Linked DNA regions of Homo sapiens: regions 2, 3, 4, 5, 6 and 7 are each reported to be linked to region 1. The links are microRNA targets in miRTarBase. Many come from high-throughput screens and were not tested one by one. Region 1 holds a microRNA gene; each other region holds the end of a gene's coding sequence.
Evidence for each region. Region 1 holds the annotated microRNA hsa-miR-101-3p (UACAGUACUGUGAUAACUGAA, at 1,065-1,085, opposite strand). A microRNA usually pairs through its seed, bases 2 to 8, with sites in the 3' UTR of a target mRNA and lowers its output. Matches are read on the target gene's strand: a 7mer-m8 pairs with bases 2 to 8, a 7mer-A1 pairs with bases 2 to 7 and ends in A, and an 8mer does both.

Region 1 (3,115 bases):
CAGCTTTCTTGAAAATAGACTCCCTTACCTGTCTTTATGCTAGCTTACCAAAAAGAACGGAGGCTTCCCTTTCCCACCCTGGCAGACCCGTCTGCACAAAGCTCTGGGAGGCAGCAGAATATCTCTAAGCCCCAGCCTCAAGATACATCATCTTACAATTTGTGCTACTCCTTTAAAGCTCCATTCAGAGCAGGACACTGTTTTCACAGGAGAGGAAGTCATTTTATGCAAGTTTTCTGGAAGAAAAGACACTACAATTAATGTTTGGTGAGAAGATGTGTTGAAGAGGACACAGGAACTTTCAAAAATGTCCAGTCATATCTTGAGCATCTCTGCAAAGCTTGAAAACATCATACAGGTCCTGGAGCCAAATTGAAAAATCTCCAAAAGCAAAAGAAAAAAAGTGTCACGAAAAAAAACATATATGTATTCCATTTTCACAGAATGTTCTGCCAAACCCCATGCCCCAGGACCACACACATTCAAGACAACACCCCATACCTCATACCGTGTGTGCAAGCAGGACTTCCCCAGGCCTGAAGCAAGGGCTGGGAAACGGCAGCTACGAGCCCAGCTACAAAGCCGGTGGGGCCACAGTGGCCACACAGCTGGCAGCCGCCTCCAGTGAGCTCTCTACAGGAAGCGAGTCTCTGTACCTAGGGTGCCATTCTTCCAGCCCTCATCTCCTCTCCAAGTACTTAACTACCAAGTCTATTTTAGCATTGTTTACTACTGATGTTACCACGCCATTTAGGATTACTCAATTTTAGGTATCCTGTCCTACGAAATACTTTTACACAAGCTATCAGGAGATAATGTGGTCCTTACCAGTTTCCTGCTTATCAGTCTTCCCTCTCTGCTAACAGAATGTATTCTCTTCCATTTTCCTGTTCTAAAAAAACCTCCCACCACGAATTCCAAAAAAAAAAAAAAAAAGAAAAAAAAAAGCCTCCATAAGAATTTATTTCAAGCTCCTGGTTTTCATGCCCCCAACGCCATGGCCCAAGGGTGCATAGCCCCACCGCAGTCCTCAACCCTTTCTCAATGTGATGGCACCACCATTCTTCAGTTATCACAGTACTGTACCTTTCAGATATACAGCATCGGTACCATGATAACCGAAAAAGGACAGTTCAGTCTCATATCTACCTGAATATTCCCTGCCACCCAGCTCACCAACCTCAGATGGGCCATATGATGATCTCCAAGTATGCAAGCACGTGAAAACACACACACACAATGTCAGTACTCAAATAGGCTGTTTTCCGCAACCTCATTTACTATCAATAGGAAATGCTTCTTTCACAGTGTCATTTATAATTCAAGTCTTCTGACACTGTTCTTTTTGAAGAGTGCTTGCTTTTACACCACAGCAGTCAACTTCTGCTAACATTCAACAATCCAAACTCACTTCTACAATTCCCTACTAGTCCAGTAGCATTAATACAAACTCTGTCTTTTGTCATCTTTCCCAGTGAGCTCATATCCTATCATCTTAGACAAAAAGCCTGTTTTCCCACAGCAAGTTAGACAGCTAAGGAAAAGAATGATTAAAAAAAAACTAGTAATAAAATCCAAGCTACACCAAACCAGGAGTTTACCTCTAACCTGGAAACAAAATCTAAAGCACGAACAAAATAACTGCCCAATAGAGATCATGCAATTTCAGTTACCTGGGATTAAGGAAGGAAAGAAATGCAAAAATCCTTGTATGTAAAAATAAACACCAGGTTAAGAGTGACAACTGCTGGCTGATTTGAGGATAAACACAAGCAGGTGTTCATAGTGCAGGCTCTGTGCAGCACAACACCCTTTGTCATTTTGGGCAATGAGAAAATTACACTGGACAGAATAACGAGGTTGAAAAAGAATAACTTACGTGTAGGGAGAGAGAGGGCCTAGCAGGACTTTGGAAACATCCTGCTGTCCAAGGGTCATGAGTAGTAGCGCCAGGCTTTGGTTGGTCGAGTCTACGCATCCACCCTGTAAACACAAATTAATAATTGTACAAACCAGAAAATGGAAAGCCAACAAAAGAGAGGAGGAAAAAAAAAACCAGAAACATACACTCATAATATCAAAATCCAAAGTTCAAGCAACAATAAAACAGAATACAGGTCTTATAAGAGTAATCATTGTATCAACTAACTGTAGAGGGTTAAACTAACAGTTAATTAGAGCAACTGTAATAGTTGAGACTATCAGAATGAGACTATCAGATTCAAATCTTCTTAAGTGAATCTAGTAAAAAAAAAAAAAAATGAAACTTTCCCTTTATCATTAAAGCAGCAGCAGGAGGACATCATCTTTATTGAGTATATGCAAAAAAAAAAAAATCTTAATCAGTTCTAGAAGATGTAGAGTTAATTCCAAGGGTTAAGTGGATGACGCTCATATTTATTGAATCTGTCACAGAACAACACAGTCTATCTGACATGAAACGGCCTTTTCATGGCCTTACTTTTACACTTATTCAAATACATTCAGGAAACTGCTTGCCATACTCTATTAACTTCTCTCCTTTATCTCTTCCTGAGTTCCTTAAAACTGAAGACTTGTTAAGGTTAGATCCCTTTATTCTTACTACTTATGTATAAAATTATGCCTTCCACCCCCTTTTCCTTCCCTTTCTTCCAAATTAACAAGCAGAACAGACTTCTCTTCAAACACTTTCTCCTGAGGTACAACTGCTTAGGTTGCCTTTCTTCTTTTGTTTTTCATTTTCTCAGCCATTTTAACTGTTTTGCCTCCACTAGACGCATACATAAGCATACAAACACGCTTTCTGATCATTCTTTCTGGAATAACTTTAAAACATATTGTACATAGTCAAAGAAGGATGACCTTGAATTTCTACATATTTTGCACAGGTCAAAATTAGAAATCCAGTCTGACCAAGGCACGTTACTATCCAAGGCTAGACTGAACAGGATAGGTGGCCAGCAGTGTGGTTCATATGGCTACAACTGCCCCTGCCTCCTTTTTAAGGCATGTAGGGTAGGAAATAAATCCATTTTCAGATACAGACACTCTGAAATTCTCTGGCTGTCAGATATCATTTAGTAGCCCTAATAATGGTGAAGGAAATAAGGATTGATCTTACTGCTAGCCTTTA
Region 2 (3,115 bases), not on the chromosome of region 1:
AGGCGGCATCTGTCTTTTGCTTAGAAACCTTCATTTGCTGATATTTCAGAGTGGTATGGGAGTGGTAGTTTTTAAAGTCATTGCAGTATTCTCCTGATTGAAATGTTTTTTAAAATGTCTTGCTAATTGCTGTTCTCATTTTTAAATTATTTTTCCTCAGAAACCCACAATCTGCCAAAGCAACCTCCACTTGCCCTAGCAATGGGACAGGCCACACAATGTCTAGGACTGATGGCTCGATCAGGAATTGGATCCTGCGCATTTGCCACAGTGGAAGACTACCTACATTAGCTATGCATTTCAAGAGCTCACACTTATATTGTGGCATATAGTCAACATGGAAGTAGACCAGCTCTGCTGATTTGAAATTTAGATTTTTTAAATTATGTACTGGGGACAGGTTTTTGTCGCTTTACATTGCTTCCTAGTTTACAGCATGATGCAAATGATTTTCTAACTTAGTGTTAGGAGAAATTATTTTCCATCTTTAACCTCTTAGTTGTCTAAGAGTTAAATATTACTGAATTTCAGACGTTCAAATTGATCATCACAAATCCTTTAAAACAATTACCTAAAAGAAACCAAAAATCCTGCCTTCTTTGTGGGGGAGGGGGGAGAGAGGGGAAGGAAATGGAACAAGTTGTGTTTGTGTTAGCATGTGGGTGATGTAAACTTCAAATTGGGAGATGTTCCGACCCCCACTCCCATATAAGCATTCAATCAGTGTAACTTGCAAAATGCATAAACATCCGACAGTTTGAATTTATAGTGTTGATGGAAGAAATCATTTTTAATGTGTACTGTAAAACTTGAAATACTCAGGAGCTGAGTGAATATGTTTGTTGCTACTTACAATCCCGACCTGTTAGTCCCAGTAGTTTTGTTTTAACATGGTCTTTTTCAACTTTGTTTCCTGTTTAACTACAGATGACTTCTGTTGTAGACTCACAAGTTTAACTGTTGTATTATAACAGTATTACATGTCAACGGTGTGGTTATGACCTTTATTTATATAAAAACCAAATATTTAGTCAATTTACCGTGTCTTAATTTAATCTTTGTACACCTTCCATTTTTAAGTGCTTAAATGAGTACTATATTGCAATAAAATGTAGTGATATAATTAACCAGCCATTAAAAATTTACTTCTACAGATACAGTGTCAATTGAGTTTATATATTAGGTACTTGCATACTTTTTATGATTACTATGAAAATTAGAGCAATTAAAATTAATGGTTTCTACAATTAATCTGAGTTCTACAACCTAAAATTGCCTTCAGTTTACTGGCATCCCTGGATTAGGGTTAGACCTGATATTGTGGCTGACACAGAAAGGCAACAGGAAATTAACTTCATTATTTTCATATTCATAATATGGCATATGAGACTCACCAGGCAAGCAAATCCCCAGACTGGTTAAAAGTAAAAATTTAAAAGCTGTTAGCTATATTTTGTGCACTGAATCTTTAATAGCAAATTGTCTACAGGCTGCAGTTAGAGACTTTGCTGGAATATCCATTTCTCCTTTTAGTCCGTGCCATTTTTGCCACCCCTCTAACCCGGGGAGAGTAGAAGAGGTGCTGTTGCTGATGTGGGTATGGCTTGAATTCAGTTAAATATATTAAAAAGAAAACAATTCCTTCTTAAACCACTTTTTCCTCTAGGATTGCAAGGCACAGTTCTACTCCAGAAGAATGAAATGTGGTTGAGCACTTCCTCAAATAGGTTTATGATTTTTATAATGATCCTTTAAAATGATCTATGAATGATTTATTAGATAAATTCTATACATACAAAGTACAGATTCTTCATTTAGCATTGATTTACTTCTTAGTTTTCATCTTTCTGACCATCCACCGTCTTTTAAACCTCTTGGCATTTTGTTTTTTTTGGATTCCTAGAATATAAAGTTTTCTGCAGTAAGTATATTAGAAAAACATAATTCAAAATTTTTTTAATTACTCTATATGAATGTAATTACTAAAACTGGGTGGGCTTATTATACTTTAGATGTATATACATACTACATTGACCTGTTTTTCACAAGTAACTTAATATATAAGCCATTATAAGGGGGAAAAGTATAATTATGAACTATCTCCTTCAAAAGAACATTATTCAACATATAAAGCTATTAGAGACAGGAGAATAAAGCTGGATCTTACCCCAAGCATTATTCAAAAACTGGACAGCAGCTCTTTTCACTGGTAACCTCTTGTTGGCAAGAGACAGGAACTTATTTACTAGAAAAGAAAGGTATTTATCATTTCACAGTTTTATTTGCAGTAAAAAGTGAGAAAAATAGTCCATAAAAAAATTACCAGTAGTCCTGTTGGTTCCTGGCCCATATAATGAATTATGTATGAAGGCTTGTGCTGCTTGTTGCCTTGAATCTCTCAGATCTTGGTCTTTTAGCCTTACGGCCAAGTAGCTTTTATTCTGGCTGTTGATCAATATAAAAGGTTAAATAAGAATTACACATGCTTACTTTCTTTTTTTTTTCTTCCTGAGACAGAGTCTCGCTCTGTCACCCAGGCTGCGCGATCTCAGCTCACTGCAACTTCTGCCTCCCAGGTTCAAGCAACTTGCCTGCCTCAGCCTCCTGAATAGTGGGATTACAGGTGCCTGCCACCATGCCCAGCTAATTTTTTTATTTTCAGTAGAGACGGGGTTTCACCATGTTGGCCAGGCTGGTCTCGAACTCCTGACCTTGTGATCCACCAGCCTCGGCCTCCCAAAGTGCTGGGATTACAGGCATGAGCCACCGTGCCCAGGCTACATGCTTACTTTAAAATATTTTTATCATTTGTCTCATAGTGATAAATGAAACTAATTTTATATATGCACAGATAGGATAAAACTAAATTACAAGGACTACAAGAAACAGACACTCATATTTTAGTAGAGCACATGGTGGTTTTGTTCATCAGTTGAACAATCAGCATCTCAGATAGATCCAACTGAAGAACTTGTTCCTGGACTTTTGTACTAAAATATACTAAAACCAAAAGTCAAAACATTAGTTAACAGGAAATTGTTCGGATACATGTAGTAAAAGAGAATTGACAGCATGATTTCCAAATCGATTGTGCCAAATAAGTTTTTCCAAATGA
Region 3 (3,000 bases), not on the chromosome of region 1:
GGGGAGAATCCGGGTCTTAGTCCCTCTTGTTCCTTCTGCCCCCTGTGGCCCAGGGCAAGGTTGAGCCAGGCCAGGGCCACGGGAGGCTGGGAACGGACGAGGCTTGGCCCTGCTGGCCGGGGATGGCCTGTCCTGCCCACACACTCACCTGCCTGTCCAGGATGGCCTGCCCTGCCCATCTGCTGCCTGTCTGGGATGGCCCGCCCTGCCCACGCGCTCACCTGCCTGTCTGGGATGGCCCGCCCTGCCCACGCGCTCACCTGCCTGTCTGGGATGGCCCGCCCTGCCCACGCGCTCACCTGCCTGTCTGGGATGGCCCGCCCTGCCCACGCGCTCACCTGCCTGTCCTGTGTGTGTGTCATCCCCTCCCCGCCAGGCATATGCAATGATGCTGTCCCTTTCCGAAGACACTCCTCTCCACACCCCCTCCCAGGGTTCTCTGGACGCTTGGTTGAAGGTCACTGGAGCCACGTCGGAGTCTGGAGCATTTCACCCCATCAACCACCTCTGACGGGCTGGGCAGCCGGGGGCCGGTGGCCAGAGCGAGGGCACCAGCCACGAAGGACGGAGGCGGGCGGGGCCCCGGAGAACCCTGTCCCTGCGTGTGGCCACTCCTCAGCATCCTCCCCACCCACCATGGTTCATTCCGACTTTTCCAATGGAAACTCAGATCCCAAAAGTCCCTAAAGCAGTCGTAGAGTCTCACCATCTCCAAGGATTGGTCTTGAGAACACTGTTCAGTGACGGCCATGCAGGTGGCCGTCCAAAGACAGCCAACGGAGCTGCCTCGCAGAATCAGCCAGTGGGCAGGTGGACGCTCTGCTGAGACAGAAGCTGGTGGCCACTGCCGGGTGCCCGCGTGGGGTCGCGGAAGGGAATGGATAGACTGGTGTGCTCAAAAGAGAGAGATCACTCAAATGATTTTTATAATGAAATGACAAGAATAACCCTTTTGGTAACCGTATTGACTGCAGAGTCTATTTAAGCATGTGGTTTTAAAAATAGACAGTATTTTTTAAAAATCAAAAAATGACTTGCAAATTGTTTTTTAAAAGTAATTTTGCATTGCTTTGAAATTTGAGCTCATTTGCAAACCCGAGTCTGCCTGGGAACCCGCACTGTGCCTGGGTGTATTCTTTATACTGTAGATAATGGAGAAATTTTCTATCTCTGTCCCTATTTGTATAAGCCAAGGTGATGCTGGGTGCCCCGAGGCAGAACAAGAGGCGCGGGGCCACACCCGTGAACCATGCAGACGGCCGAAGAAGTCTTAGGCAGGGCGCCCTGGGCTGCAGGCCTGCCCGAGGCTGGGATGGGAAGTGTGCCTGCCCTCGTGTGACATGGAATTGGTGTCAGGACCGCCACGTGGCCTTCAGAGGAATCCACAGGTCCCCACCCAAGATCCCTCAATTATATGGGGAAGTCGAGGGCCTGTGGCTTGGATCCGCCATGCAGAGATGTGGCCGGGCACCCATCTTCCTTCCCTCCTCTGTCCCTGCCTCGGCCACCCCACGCGGGAACCCAGCGCCGTCCTCTGAAGGCAGGGCCTTGGCCACGTCCTGGGTCTCCCACCTCCCACCTGACCCCAGCGGCTCCGGTGTCCTCCACGTGGCTGCCCTGGGGAGCAATCCCAGCGGATCGCTCCGGGCCACCAAGCCGCACCTGTGCCTGAGACTCCGGATGGACGACACAGTCGTCACGTCGCTCTTCCTGCGGGTTCTTGGCGAGACACAGCTTGAGAACAGAAGGGCGTCGGGGGAACCTGCCGCAAGGAGCAGAGACAGCACAGCCCCCCGGGCCCAGCCGCCTCCCTCTCTTGGGACGCAACTTCTTCCCCACTCGGATGGGCTTTAAATTATTCCCATAGGGGCCAATTTCAAATAATAATTTTTTTCCCTGATGGAATTTACCTTAATCTGTATATAACTTGTAATTTTTTCTAATTCATTTCTTTTCTTATTTTATTTCCTCCTTAACAGTATTTTTGGCATTAGACATTCTTATTGTGAAGAAATAATGTTAATATAAGTATCTGGTGAAGGACCAAAACCGTGTGATAAGGTTGTGTGTCGTGTGGGAGTGGGGCGATTTTTTATGTGCCAAATACCCCCGTCCCCCCCATGAATCCTGCTGTCCCTGCTGCCGTTTACCAGACAATCATATGTTTTTGTTAAATTTGCGTTTCAGTTACATTTGCATTTAAGACAAGTGTTCTATTTATTTCTTGTATTGTTTGGAAGAAAAAATGATGATAGAGTCCCAAAAAGAAGAGAAAAAAAATGCCCAAGTTGCCCTTTAAAAAAAAAGAGCGTAAATACAAACAGGAGTGGTGCAAGCCGCCTTGGTGTGGGTTTGTGTCACGTGTGGACATCTCCTCAGGCTTTGTGTCACGCGTGGACATCTCCTCAGGCTGTCCCCAGCGGTGACGGGAGGTGTCCTGGCTGCTCCAGGACAAAAGACAATCGTCTCTGTGGGTGCCGGGTGGTCCAGGCTTGCACTGAAGACGTGCCACGGGGAGGCTCCTGCAGGAGGCTCAACCCGACGGATCACAGTGAAAGGGATTCCTCCCACGCCAGATCTGCACAACGAGGCAAGACAGGACCCACCTGTGCGTGCGCTGGGGCCATGGGGTGGCCCCGCCGGGGCAGCGGGGGAGCTGCCTGCAGAAGAGCCAGCTGGCGTGTCGGGAAGGATCCAGGATCTGCAAACACAACTGCTCAGGCCTTCTCACGCGTTTCCACAACATCCCCTGGGTCAGACCCACCAGGTACCCCGTAGGAATTTCCAGTTTCCCTTGATCTAGATGGGATTCTTATAAAAATTCAACCTCAGACATAAACACCCCATTTCTGTAAACCCAAATTATATGGTTTCTTCTGCGAAAGAGTAAGGTGTGTGCTTTTTTTTTTTTGCAATATGACCCCGTCTCTCTGAAGTGGGACATTCGGACGGATGGAGCCCTCAGCGTGTCTTTTCAGCAGGAGCAGAACCGATGAGAGC
Region 4 (3,115 bases), not on the chromosome of region 1:
TCCTCCCACCAGGCCTCTTGAAAACTCCGATGCGTGCTGGGGAGAGAAGGACAAGGGCACAGGGCACCTGCTGTGATGAAAACAGCTTTGACCTCGGGACACCCTGGAAGGGTCCTGAAGCCCCCAGGCCACACTTGGAAGAACGAAGCATGTGGGTGTGAGTGGTCCGGGGCGGGGGTGGCAGCCAGCGCTGTTTGCGTTGGGCGTGTTTATAGACTTGATTTCTCTCCACACTTCATTCCAAGAGATAGACACTCAAACTATGAAAATTGTTTTTATTTTAAATCAAAGTACCAGGCAGATACTTGCAAAACAACATACAAAGCAAAACTCAAACATGGCCCTTCCCTAGGGCGCCTCTGAGCAGGCACAGAGAAGTTCTCACCCTCTGCAAAATCCAATCCAATCCTATCTTCTCAGAAAACCAAACCAAAGGCAGCCATGAAAACCCGTGTTCTGTACGTGGTTGAGAAGGTCCTCCTCTCTGAGTACTGGCTGGCCCCAAGGCGCAGAACTGGGAGGTCCAGGGAACCCTGCCCCCGAGGAGCCAGCAGGACCTGGAGGAGCCGGGGGCGGTGCTGACAACAACCTTCCCCACCCACTGCAGTGTGGTTCCCATGAGGATGAGGGCTTCTCCAGGGCCCTTCCCCACGCTGGGGCTTGGAGCCCCTGCCAGAAGCAGCTGGGTTGGCGGTAGATGTCCCCGAGGGCCTTGGGAAGCACTGGGAATGGGCTCCCAGCCCTGGTGGAATGGGGGATTGGGAATTAATTCTGAAGCTGGTTGTGGCTTATTTTTGTATGGCTCTGAAATTAACTTCCTCTCCCTATGCCTCAGTAGCTAAGGGGCAGGGGCAGAAAAGGTCCCAACCCTGTTCTTAAAAAGAAAGGAAATGAACCCACAACCCACTGGAAGTTCTGTTGACGAGGGCTGTCAAGGCAGACGCACTCGTGACTTTGACAAAGGGAAGCAGCTGGAAGGTTGCGGGTCCCAGGGTCACAGGCAGCTGTATTAGTGACAGGTTCTGAGCTGGTGGGTGGGGGCCGCAGGGCTCTCCTGACCCCCGTAGGGTCATACCGCTGCATGCTGCAGAACTCAACTAGAGTGGAAATGAGTTTAAAACGGAGTATGTACATCAAAAGATCAACATCACGCCGAAACCAGCTGACTGTGACAACAGCAAACAAAAATGTAACAGAGAAAACAAACAAGACACAGCCTCAGTAGCTTGACATGGGTGAGGGCAGCCAGGACAGGGCCCTGGTGACAATGGCGCAGAGGTGGGGTCTGGGCCGCTCACTGGACGGACAGCCAGCCAGTTCCCTTCGGAGCAGTGAAGTGGGACACAGGACCCTCGCATTGCGGGGCCTCAGACGGGCCTTCAACTGCCGACAGAATCAGCAGGAGCGTCCAGGGGAATCTGGCACTCAGGGTCCTCCCGGGACATGCCCTGTTGGAGACGGCAGGAGGCCTGGGCTGGCTGCTCCCTGAGATGCCTGCCCCAGGACCCTGGCCTGGAGGGGCCTCAGCCTGGTCTTCCTTGTGAGTCCAAGGCCAGGTCTCAGGACAGCCACAGACAGCCCTTCCAGACAGGCTCTGGGCTCCACCTTCGGCAGCTGCCCTGAGCAGCCCACCCGGGGCAGCCTCCTGAACACCCAGGGGCTCTCCCTTGGACAGAGACCACCAAGGGCCAGCCCAGGGGCTGCATGGGGGCCGGGGGCCAGGGAGCCAAGGGCTGTTCCGTGGCCAAGCAGCCCAAGCTGAAGGGCCCACATGGGAATCCTCGACCTCCATAGTGACTGGTTCTGTTTATGCCTCTGCCCCAGGACTGAAGCCCTAGGGACACACCTCATGGATCTCAGACCCCTGGGAGGGGCCGGCTCAGGGACAGGCTGCCCAGGACCTCCGCACCCGGTCAAGTGCACTCACAGGGGCTCAGGGGCCACCCAAAGAGCTAACTCGGGAAGCCTAGGCACTCACCATTATTTTGGTTGAAAATGCTATAAATCTGACTCTTCCTAGAAGCCTACTAAGCAATTCACTTAAAAACACCCTCAGTACATGTGCAACAATGCCTGGACCACGCCTCGTCTGTGCGGCCCCTGGGCCACCTGAGCACCGGCTGGGGGCGGGGGAGGCAGGCACCCATCAGGATCTGCACCCCAAGCTCCGGGTGCATGTTCCCAACTGGAGGAGAACGGGGCGCCAGCCACACTAAACCTACAGAAAACTGTGGGAAGAAACCAAATCCATAGGATCCAGAGGTTTCACACTTGGGCTTAGCTCCCAAGTCATGAGTTAGTAACGTCCCCAGGGACCTGGCTGGGTGCAGACATGGGGGCCTCGTGACCTGCTGCACCGCGTCCAGCACCTGCAGGGTCGCGCTCGGCACCTGGCTCTGCTTCCTCTGTCTCTGCTGCACCCAGGCTCCCCCTAGCCCCCGCCCACCTGGCTCCTGATCAAGGCCCAATGTGTAAACAGTATTAATAAGCAACAGATGGAAAAATATATTTCCCAAGAAAAAAGGGGGAGGAAACGTGGGACCTGAAGACCGATTTTCCAGGTTGCTCTCGCTGTTCTGTCCCCTTCTCTCTTCTCGTGATTTGTTTTGGCGATTCCTCTCTTTGGTTCTGCAGACCACGTGACCCACCTGCCCGAGCCAGCCCTGCGGCCTCTGCCCGCTCCCTGCTGCCGCGGCTGAGAGACAGCCAGCCCTGTCCGTCCCAGGGGCCTCGCCCTCCTGTCGGCTACTTCCGCTCGTGGTCCTCTGCCATGGCAGCCACCTCAATGGTGGCCGTGTGCTCCTCAGGCCCGGGGGCAGCCCCTGCGGGCACTGTCACAATTGTGCTGGAGCCAGGCGAGGCCTGGGCCACGTTCTGCAGGGTGGGGCCCAGGCCAGGCAACGTGAGCAGCTGTAGCGGGCTGACCACCTTGAACACCGTGCTACCGTCCTGCACGGCGGCCGTGCTCAGGACCGTGAGGCTGGACGCGTCCGGGTGGATCTCCACTGTGCTGGGGTAGGTGGAGCCGGAAGAGGCCAAGACTGTGTATCCCCCGAGCAGCGGGGAGGCCGGGGAGCTGGCGGGGGGCGCCTGAAGGGAACCCTTGCCCAGGACG
Region 5 (3,115 bases), not on the chromosome of region 1:
GCACTGTCATTTACATCTTTGGTCTCTTTTTTGCATTAGAAAGAAGCTTAGCCCTTAGCTCCCTGAAGACAGCTGGCAAGTCTGAACCTTCCAGCAAGTTGCGAAAGCAACTTAAAAAGCAGCAAGACTCTTTAGATGTCGTGGACTCTTCGGTCTCCTCTTTATGTCTGTCTAACACGGCATCATCTCATGGGACCAGAAAACTATTTCAGATTTATTCCAAATCTCCATTCTACCGAGCTGCCTCAGGTAATGAGGCCCTGGGAATGGAAGGACCATTGGGCCAGACCAAATTCCTGGAAGACAAGCCTCAGTTCATCAGCAGAGGAACCTTCAACCCGGAAAAGGGCAAACAAAAATTAAAGAATGTGAAAAACTCACCTCAGAAAACCAAAGAGACCCCAGAGGGGACAGTCATGTCTGGCCGCAGAAAAACTGTGGACCCAGACTGCACCTCCAACCAACAGCTAGCACTCTTTGGAAATAATGAATTTATGGTCTGAACCGGCAGATGTGTGTCCCTCCGTGGCTACAGAGTGGTAAACAAATCTCACCTTTGGGGCTGCGTTTCATCACCTCGTCCACAATAGTCAATCCTAATTGTGGTCCTGCCTCTTTTCTAAGCATATGGCTAAGACTGTATGTGCTGAATTCCTGGGCCTCCTGCAGAAGCAGAAAGCCTGCTGGGGATGGTGCCAGCTGTGCCTTGGCTGTTGTATTTGAATTGAGATTTTTACTATACAAAGCCACCTAGGGCCTGGGGATTTGGGTCAGTTGTAGTTGCCTCTCCCCCACCCTCTTTTCCCTTCCCAAAGGTGGGTGTTGAACTAGGGGGGATATTGCTGTCCTGAGGGACCCTCTCATTTCTGACATTTGAAGAAAACGTATAAATCTTTCTTAACCGTGAAAGCAAAAGCCTTTGGGTTTATTTTGGGATAGTTAGGAGCTAGGGTAGAATATAATTTTTTTCCAAAAACTTACTTACAAACAAAAAGCCTAATCCCTCTATTTTAAGATTTCTGAAAAAACACTCCATGTTATATTCTGGGGAAAGCAAAAACAAAAAAAAAAAACAAAAAAAAAAAAACAAAAAAAAACCGTGATTGTTTCCATTAAGCCATCAGAGCGTGTCTCAGATATCTTGTTATACAGTGAAGAAGAGAATACCTATTTTTTTTGATGATGTTTGATGTCATAGTAATCAGTGCTGGTTTAACTCCTGTTTAGTTCCTGCCAAATACATTGCATGGGCTGAAGTGTCAGTAGCCATACTGTTCTCATGTTTCTTGGTCCTAGGATCAGATTCTTCTACATTATTTTTTAGTTTCCCAGAGACATGGTGATCCCTAAACTTATGAAGGTTTCATCCTAAGCCATTCAGGCTTTTCTCTTTGTATAGATTAAACCGAAAACCGCATATGAGCCTGTTCATCTGCTGGTGGATTCCCACCACAGACTCAGACTCAAACAAACAAACAAATAATGTGACCGTTTAGTTAGTTTCCAAAAACATTCACATACAATATTGCATGAATAAGTAAGTAAGTGTTACAGAAAGCTGCCAAAAAATAAAAAGGTTTTTAATATGACCTATCTAACTAACTAACTTTTATCTTCCTTTTCTCAGACTATCAGTATTAAATAGATGGAAAAAAATCAAGGACTACTTGAAGCTATTTTTGTTAATATTCTGGTTACTGAAGTTTATTGTAAATATGTATGTATAGTAGGCATATTTCTTTTTAACCTTGTGCTTCCCTCCTTCCCATGGAATTTCTTCCCACAGATGAGGGGCCACTGGACAGGGGGATGAGAGCCATTCGTCCCTGGGTTGAGGGAATTAGTAAGACATCATTTTCACCACTGGGTGGTCTTCATACACATGAGTTATAATAGCATTTTAAGTATCTTAGCATTTGTGGGATTAGAAATCTGTTTTTGCTATTTATAATATATAAAAAATGAAACATGATAGCCTTTCTTGAGATAAGTATGTGAAATGTTTATTTTTAAAGTTACTAAATGCATCTTGTCTTGCTACTACATGCACTGCTCTGAAAAAGAGCCTTTACCATCTATAACCTGTATTTTGGGTATTCTTCCTTTTCATACTTCTTTGAAGTTGTGGAAATATTAAGTCTTTTGTTAAGGCAGAGTCTCTCTCTCCTGTTACACAACACTGAACCTCACGCCACTGCCTCAGTGGTTATTGGCCAGCCCCAGAGGTTAGACTTGGAGCATAATTCTGAGTGGCAGCTAAAGGTAGCAGGAGTCTTACCTCTCCCTACTTTGGGTTCAGAATTGAGCCAGAGAAAGGAAGCCATTAAAATCTCCAGAATAATGATAGTTAATGAGCAAATGTTATGCTTTATATCCCACAGACATCTGCCACCTTGTTCATCTTGTCCTGAGGAGTAATAAATAATGTTAAGCTTTTAAAAATCTGAATTTCAGAGAATCTCCTAGAGGATAGAGGAAAACCCCTCAGCATGGTGTGTTAGAGTGGGATTGCTGGTTCCTCAGCCCCGTGCCAGGTTGCACAGTCTGTGTTTCAGTGTTCTTGGGAGAGTAGTGTACTGCTGGGCATTAATTGTTACTCTGCACTTGCTCCAGAATGTTGGTTAAATCCTGTATGAAAAAAAGAGATTGCCCTTATGGAATAATTTCCTGTGGCCCAGAGGAATGGCCAGAAGAACATATGTTGGCACATGTTCTTCCTTCTAAATCTTTGTGGGGCTTTTTTGGCAAAATAAGTTTTTTGGCAGTTAAAAAACGACTGATGTAGGTCACTTTAAAGGAACTAGGTGATGGATGTTAAGAGACTTTATAATTTTTCTCAGGGACCTGAAACTCCAGTTTGGATAAAATTCAATTAAAAAAACTTGTTTTTTCAGTTGCTAGATTTGTGGATTTCTAGTAATTTAATCTGCCAGGATTGGGGTGGGTGGGTGAGGAGGAGAGAGCCACAAAATGATAAGAGTGGAGAGCAGTGTGGGGCCCTCCCTTTGAGGGAAAGCCGTTGTTTACATAGGGTAGTAGGCCTTGTTGGCCTGATCAAGAGATGAAGCCATAACTCTTAAAAACCTTCAGAACCAAACGCTGTGTCTGCATCCAT
Region 6 (3,115 bases), not on the chromosome of region 1:
CATGCCTGTAATCTCAGCACTTTGGGAGGCTGAGGTGGGCGGATCACCTGAGGTCAGGAGTTGGAGACCAGCTTGGCCAACATGGTAAAACACCATCTCTACTAAAAATACAATATTGGTGAGGCGTGGTGGCTCACCTGAGGTTGGGAGTTCGAGACCAGCCTGACCAACACAGAGAAACTTCATCTCTACTAAAAATATAGAATTAGCCAGGCATGGTGGCATATGCCTGTAATCCCAGCTACTGGGGAGGTTGAGGCAGGAGAATTGCATGAACCTGGGAGGCGGAGGGTGCAGAGAGCTGAGATCACACCATTGCACTCCAGCCTGAGCAACAAGAGGGAAACTCCATCTCAAAAAAAAAGAAAAATATTAAATTCCCCATGAAATAATGTATCAAACCCTACTAACTTATACACTTTATTTTAATTTAATTAATTCATTTGTTTATTTATTTATTTTGAGATGGAGTTTTGCTGTGTCACCCAGGCTGGATTGCAGTGGTGCCATCTCAGCTTACTGCAACCTCTGCCTCCTGGGTTCAAGCGATTCTCCTGCCTCAGCCTCCCAAGTAGCTGGGACTATAGGCGCCTGCCACCATGCTTGGCTAATTTTTTTGAATTTTTAGTAGAGATTGGGTTTCACCATGTTGGCCAGGCTGGTTTTGAACTCCTGACTTCAAGTGATCCACCGGCCTCAGCCTCCCAAAGTGCTAGGATTACAGGCATGAGCCACAGCGCCAGGCCAATAAATTTTTATTCCATATTTATTCAATAATATTTATTGAGTACCTACTGTATATCAGAAACTAGTTGAAATACATGTGATTATGACAATGAATGAGATCAACAAGTTTCCAACACTAAGAGAGCTCTCATTATGGTGGGGGTAGAGAGATGAAGCAATATATAAATATAGTAATTTTAGATGATGCTGAGTGCTATAAAGTAAATAAAAATAAATAATATGACCAGATGACTGAGTATGTGTAGGGCTACTTCAGATAGGTAGTCACAGAAAACATTTTTGAATAGGTGACATTAGAAGTGAGATCTGAATGTTGCAAAGGAGGCAGCCACTCTCAAATCTGCAAGCAGACCATTGTAAGCTGTGGGAACAGCAAGAGCATAAGTCTGGAGATGGTAAGAAACTTACTGTCTCTGAGAAACAAAAGAAGGTGTGTTTGGCGTGTAACGAGCAAGTCAGGGAATGTGGTCAGATGAGATTGGAGACTTTAGCAGGGACCAGATCTTTTAGGTTTTTACAGGCCATAGTCAGGAATCATAATTTTATCCTAAGTGTGATGGCAAGCTATGCAGAGTATATCAGTGTTCTTAATAATAAACAACAAAATTAGTTTAAGGTGAAAAGCATTTAAAGAATATTAGAAGCCGGGCACAGTGGCCCATGCCTATAATTCCAACAGTTTGTGAGGCAGAGGTGAGACAATTGGTAGAGTCCAGGTGTTCAAGATCAGCCTGGGCAACATGATGAAACCCAGTCTCTACAAAAAATACAAAGATTGGTCCAGGCGTGGTGGCTTATGCCTGTAATCCCAGCACTTTGGGAGGCCGAGGCAGGCAGATCACCTGAGGTCAGGAGTTCGAGACCAGCCTGACCAACATGGAGAAACCCTGTCTCTACTAAAAATACAAAAGTAGCCAGGCGTGGTGGCGCATGCCTGTAATCCCAGCTACTCCGGAGGCTGAGGCAGGAGAATCACTTGAACCCGGGAGGCGGAGGCTGTGGTGAGCCAAGATCGCACCATTGCACTCCAGTCTGGGCAACAAGAGGGAAACTCCATCTCAAAAAGAAAAAAAATCTAAATGACCTTAGTCCTCTGACTCAAGTCACACATCAGAAAACAGTCACCCTTGCCTGGGCACTGTAGCTCACGCCTATAATCCCAGCTACTTGGGAGGCTGAGGCAGGAGAATCACTTTAACCCAGGCAGAGGTTGCGTGAGCCGAGACTGCACCACTGCACTCCAGCCTGGGCAACAGAGCAAGATCCTATCACAAAAACAACAACAACAACAAATTGCCCTTCCAGGAGTATAATCACATTTGTAGAGAAAAGTCATGTTTGGAGGGGATGTTTAGAAATATATTGACAAATTGCAGAAGGCACTGAACCCGTTAGCTTCTATAATGGATTTCCCTTTCAGTCTCAAAACATTTCCACAGGTTGGTAATTTCTTCATTGATTTTTTTATTTTCTTTTTCTTTTTTTTTTTTTTGAGACAGAGTTTCGCTCATGTTGCCCAGACTGGAATGCAATTGTGCGACCTTGACTCACTGCAACCTCCACTTCCCAGGTACAAGCGATTCTCCTGTCTCAGCCTCCCAAGTAGCTTGGATTACAGGCATACACCACCACGCCCGGCTAATTTTTTTGTATTTAGTAGAGACAGGGTTTCATCATGTTAGTCAGGCTGGTCTCGAACTCCTGACCTCAGGTAACCCACCCGTCTTGGCTTCCCAAAGTGCTGGGATTACAGGCGTGCTCCACTGTGCCCGGCCTTGACTCGATTTTTTTTCTTAAATAAAATCAATTAACATCCATTATAAAAACTTTAAATCTACAGTAGGGTAAAAATAAAACACATAAAAACTCCTTTGCATACCCCTCATTTAGTTCTACTCCACGGAATCAACGACTGTTAATGTTTTCTTGTTTATCCTTTCAGAACTCCATTTATTGGTGAGAATGGTGTCATGTAAAATGTCTTAGCCAGTGCGATGGCTCATGCTTGTAATCACAGCATTTCTGGAGGCCAAAATAGGAAGATCACTTGAGGGCAGGAGTTCGAGACCAGCCTTGGCAACACAGAGATCTCCATCTGTTTAAAAAAAAAAAAAAAAAAAAGAGTTTCGCAACACAGTCTATATATTTATTTATTTTAAATTTTTTTTTGAGATGGAGTTTCACTCTTGTCACCCAAGCTGGAGTGCAATGGCACAATCTCGGCTGACTGCAACCTCCATCTCCCAGGTCAAGCAATTCTCCTGCCTCAGCCTCCCGAGTAGCTGGGATTACAGGCACCTGCCACCAAGCCTGGCTTTTTTTTTTTTTTTTTTTTTTTTTTTTTTTTTGTATTTTTAGTAGAGATGGA
Region 7 (3,000 bases), not on the chromosome of region 1:
ACATATCTAAAGTAATGTTGACCATGTATTTCTTTTACAGGGTTGTGGGAAGAAAATGTATTCCTTTTTGAGAGGAACCAAACAACTGCAGGTGCTGAGGTTTCTGGGAATCTCCATTGGGGTGACACAAATCCTGGCCATGATTCTCACCATTACTCTGCTCTGGGCTCTGTATTATGATAGAAGGGAGCCGGGGACAGACCAAATGATGTCCTTGAAGAATGACAACTCTCAGCACCTGTCATGTCCCTCAGTAGAACTGTTGAAACCAAGCCTGTCAAGAATCTTTGAACACACATCCATGGCAAACAGCTTTAATACACACTTTGAGATGGAGGAGTTATAAAAAGAAATGTCACAGAAGAAAACCACAAACTTGTTTTACTGGACTTGTGAATTTTTGAGTACATACTATGTGTTTCAGAAATATGTAGAAATAAAAATGTTGCCATAAAATAACACCTAAGCATATACTATTCTATGCTTTAAAATGAGGATGGAAAAGTTTCATGTCATAAGTCACCACCTGGACAATAATTGATGCCCTTAAAATGCTGAAGACAGATGTCATACCCACTGTGTAGCCTGTGTATGACTTTTACTGAACACAGTTATGTTTTGAGGCAGCATGGTTTGATTAGCATTTCCGCATCCATGCAAACGAGTCACATATGGTGGGACTGGAGCCATAGTAAAGGTTGATTTACTTCTACCAACTAGTATATAAAGTACTAATTAAATGCTAACATAGGAAGTTAGAAAATACTAATAACTTTTATTACTCAGCGATCTATTCTTCTGATGCTAAATAAATTATATATCAGAAAACTTTCAATATTGGTGACTACCTAAATGTGATTTTTGCTGGTTACTAAAATATTCTTACCACTTAAAAGAGCAAGCTAACACATTGTCTTAAGCTGATCAGGGATTTTTTGTATATAAGTCTGTGTTAAATCTGTATAATTCAGTCGATTTCAGTTCTGATAATGTTAAGAATAACCATTATGAAAAGGAAAATTTGTCCTGTATAGCATCATTATTTTTAGCCTTTCCTGTTAATAAAGCTTTACTATTCTGTCCTGGGCTTATATTACACATATAACTGTTATTTAAATACTTAACCACTAATTTTGAAAATTACCAGTGTGATACATAGGAATCATTATTCAGAATGTAGTCTGGTCTTTAGGAAGTATTAATAAGAAAATTTGCACATAACTTAGTTGATTCAGAAAGGACTTGTATGCTGTTTTTCTCCCAAATGAAGACTCTTTTTGACACTAAACACTTTTTAAAAAGCTTATCTTTGCCTTCTCCAAACAAGAAGCAATAGTCTCCAAGTCAATATAAATTCTACAGAAAATAGTGTTCTTTTTCTCCAGAAAAATGCTTGTGAGAATCATTAAAACATGTGACAATTTAGAGATTCTTTGTTTTATTTCACTGATTAATATACTGTGGCAAATTACACAGATTATTAAATTTTTTTACAAGAGTATAGTATATTTATTTGAAATGGGAAAAGTGCATTTTACTGTATTTTGTGTATTTTGTTTATTTCTCAGAATATGGAAAGAAAATTAAAATGTGTCAATAAATATTTTCTAGAGAGTAATGATTTGTCTCTGCCTACTTTTTAATACATTACAAGCACTTATGCCACTTGAGAAGATTGTCAAGGGGAGAAAAACATGAGAAAGAATGATTGCATAAAGTATTAATATTGATTTCCAAACTCCGGAATGGACCTATAAGAATATGTATTTTCACTGAGAAGAGTCAAAAAGATGCCCATTTTTCACTTTTGCTTTTTACCTAAATGTTAAATAATATACTTGTTTGAGATAATATAAAAATATGCCCATTTGTGTTCATCTTTTCAATGTTTGCATATCACAGTTTTATAACTTATTAATTTTTAAGAGACTATGAGTCTCTTAGTTAATTTCAAATTCTCTTCAAATGAGTTAAGGAATATAATCCTTGAAATTGACTGCCATGTTTAAAATCTTCCATAGATTTTAATGAAAACTGAGTACATTACTTGTTCAATCAGAGCCAAAAGCATCCCTTTTAATAACTTCCTCAATACCCCAAATCCCTGTAATTTCACCTAAAATACCCACGTAACTGAGATAGCTATGTATGAGTTTTGTTTGAATTATTTGTATAATGGTCAAATTTAGCTGCTGCTTTTTTTGATATGTCTTACAGTCACAGCAAGAGCAAGCATATAATATGTTGGGCTCAGTAAAATAAAAAGTCCTCAAATTATAAAAGTTGCTTTCTACATTTTTAGACCTCAGATATTTTGATGTATTACCTGATACACTACCCTCTAGAATGGTCAACATAAATTTAGACAATCGTTTTGTATATAATACACTTGCTTAATGGGAATGAATGACATTTATAGCAGTAGCTCACAAAGCCTCTTATGGTAGCAGTGCACCTGGAATAATAAAACTGCAAGGGAGTTAAAAAAGTATATTTAATGCAGTAGAGCTGAGGGAGTTCACTATTTGGGTACATTGCAAACAAAACTGTTAACTGTTTCTTTGGGAATTTTTAAAAGCTTTCTTTGGTTAAAAAAAAAAATCACCATTTTTTAAAAGTAGAAATTTAAGAAGATTATTTTTAGACTGGTTAAAAGTCCATTCAAAGTGCCCTGGAGACTCAGAGATGGCAACAAGAGATGATGTCTGTCCTTAAACACTGTAGAATCTGGGTTAGAGACACTTGTGCTAACCACAGGAAAAATAAATAAGGGAATATGCAGTGAGTGGGGCCCTTCTTAAGAATAAGAGATGGAGTAGAGTGGAATTAAGGCAGCTATGCCAAGGAGATGGCGTTCAAGCTGGATCAGAAGGAGCAGTGGAGTCTAGCTGGCTCATGGAAAATATTCCATGAGCCATGAGTTTGAGGTTAAAAAGTATACATTATTTTGGAGTTATGACTTATGGTTCAATGTGGTTAGATCATAGAATGATTGAAGAG

Region 2: miRTarBase lists RANBP9 as a target of hsa-miR-101-3p. Seed matches in the 3' UTR shown: 8mer at 798-805.
Region 3: the mRNA of PRDM16 is a reported target of hsa-miR-101-3p. Seed matches in the 3' UTR shown: 7mer-A1 at 1,141-1,147.
Region 4: the mRNA of GMEB2 is a reported target of hsa-miR-101-3p. The part of its 3' UTR that is shown has no 7-base or 8-base seed match.
Region 5: miRTarBase lists MYO9A as a target of hsa-miR-101-3p. The part of its 3' UTR that is shown has no 7-base or 8-base seed match.
Region 6: miRTarBase lists NANOGNB as a target of hsa-miR-101-3p. Seed matches in the 3' UTR shown: 7mer-A1 at 2,583-2,589.
Region 7: the mRNA of TSPAN12 is a reported target of hsa-miR-101-3p. Seed matches in the 3' UTR shown: 7mer-A1 at 1,536-1,542.

The regions. Positions count from the first base shown.
Region 1 is chr9:4,848,315-4,851,429 of GRCh38, reverse strand. It overlaps MIR101-2 (microRNA 101-2), which reads right to left and starts at 1,133; the gene lies at 1,055-1,133. RCL1 (RNA terminal phosphate cyclase like 1) reads right to left here. Exons shown (of 9, transcript NM_005772.5): 8 at 1,880-1,983. It overlaps LOC124902113 (a long non-coding RNA gene), which reads right to left and starts at 1,063. Exons shown (of 2, transcript XR_007061402.1): 1 at 1-1,063.
Region 2 is chr6:13,619,538-13,622,652 of GRCh38, reverse strand. RANBP9 (RAN binding protein 9) reads left to right here. Exons shown (of 14, transcript NM_005493.3): 14 at 161-1,155. The coding sequence ends at 291. It overlaps NOL7 (nucleolar protein 7), which reads right to left. Exons shown (of 8, transcript NM_016167.5): 6 at 2,324-2,445; 7 at 2,168-2,245; 8 at 941-1,899. The coding sequence ends at 1,826. Among named protein-coding and RNA genes, the nearest start is that of NOL7, 5.8 kb to the right of the region's middle.
Region 3 is chr1:3,433,301-3,436,300 of GRCh38, forward strand. PRDM16 (PR/SET domain 16) reads left to right here. Exons shown (of 17, transcript NM_022114.4): 17 at 377-3,000. The coding sequence ends at 511. Among named protein-coding and RNA genes, the nearest start is that of ARHGEF16, 20 kb to the right of the region's middle. RefSeq lists an enhancer at 151-660.
Region 4 is chr20:63,587,344-63,590,458 of GRCh38, forward strand. It overlaps GMEB2 (glucocorticoid modulatory element binding protein 2), which reads right to left. Exons shown (of 10, transcript NM_012384.5): 10 at 262-3,115. The coding sequence ends at 2,746. Among named protein-coding and RNA genes, the nearest start is that of HELZ2, 15 kb to the left of the region's middle. RefSeq lists enhancers at 135-304, 898-1,067, 2,985-3,115 and a cis regulatory region at 220.
Region 5 is chr15:71,823,968-71,827,082 of GRCh38, reverse strand. It overlaps MYO9A (myosin IXA), which reads left to right. Exons shown (of 42, transcript NM_006901.4): 42 at 40-3,115. The coding sequence ends at 503. Among named protein-coding and RNA genes, the nearest start is that of NR2E3, 15 kb to the right of the region's middle.
Region 6 is chr12:7,773,527-7,776,641 of GRCh38, reverse strand. NANOGNB (NANOG neighbor homeobox) reads right to left here. Exons shown (of 4, transcript NM_001145465.1): 4 at 2,521-2,842. The coding sequence ends at 2,791. Among named protein-coding and RNA genes, the nearest start is that of NANOGNB, 9.9 kb to the right of the region's middle.
Region 7 is chr7:120,785,938-120,788,937 of GRCh38, reverse strand. TSPAN12 (tetraspanin 12) reads left to right here. Exons shown (of 8, transcript NM_012338.4): 8 at 41-1,618. The coding sequence ends at 346. Among named protein-coding and RNA genes, the nearest start is that of TSPAN12, 71 kb to the left of the region's middle.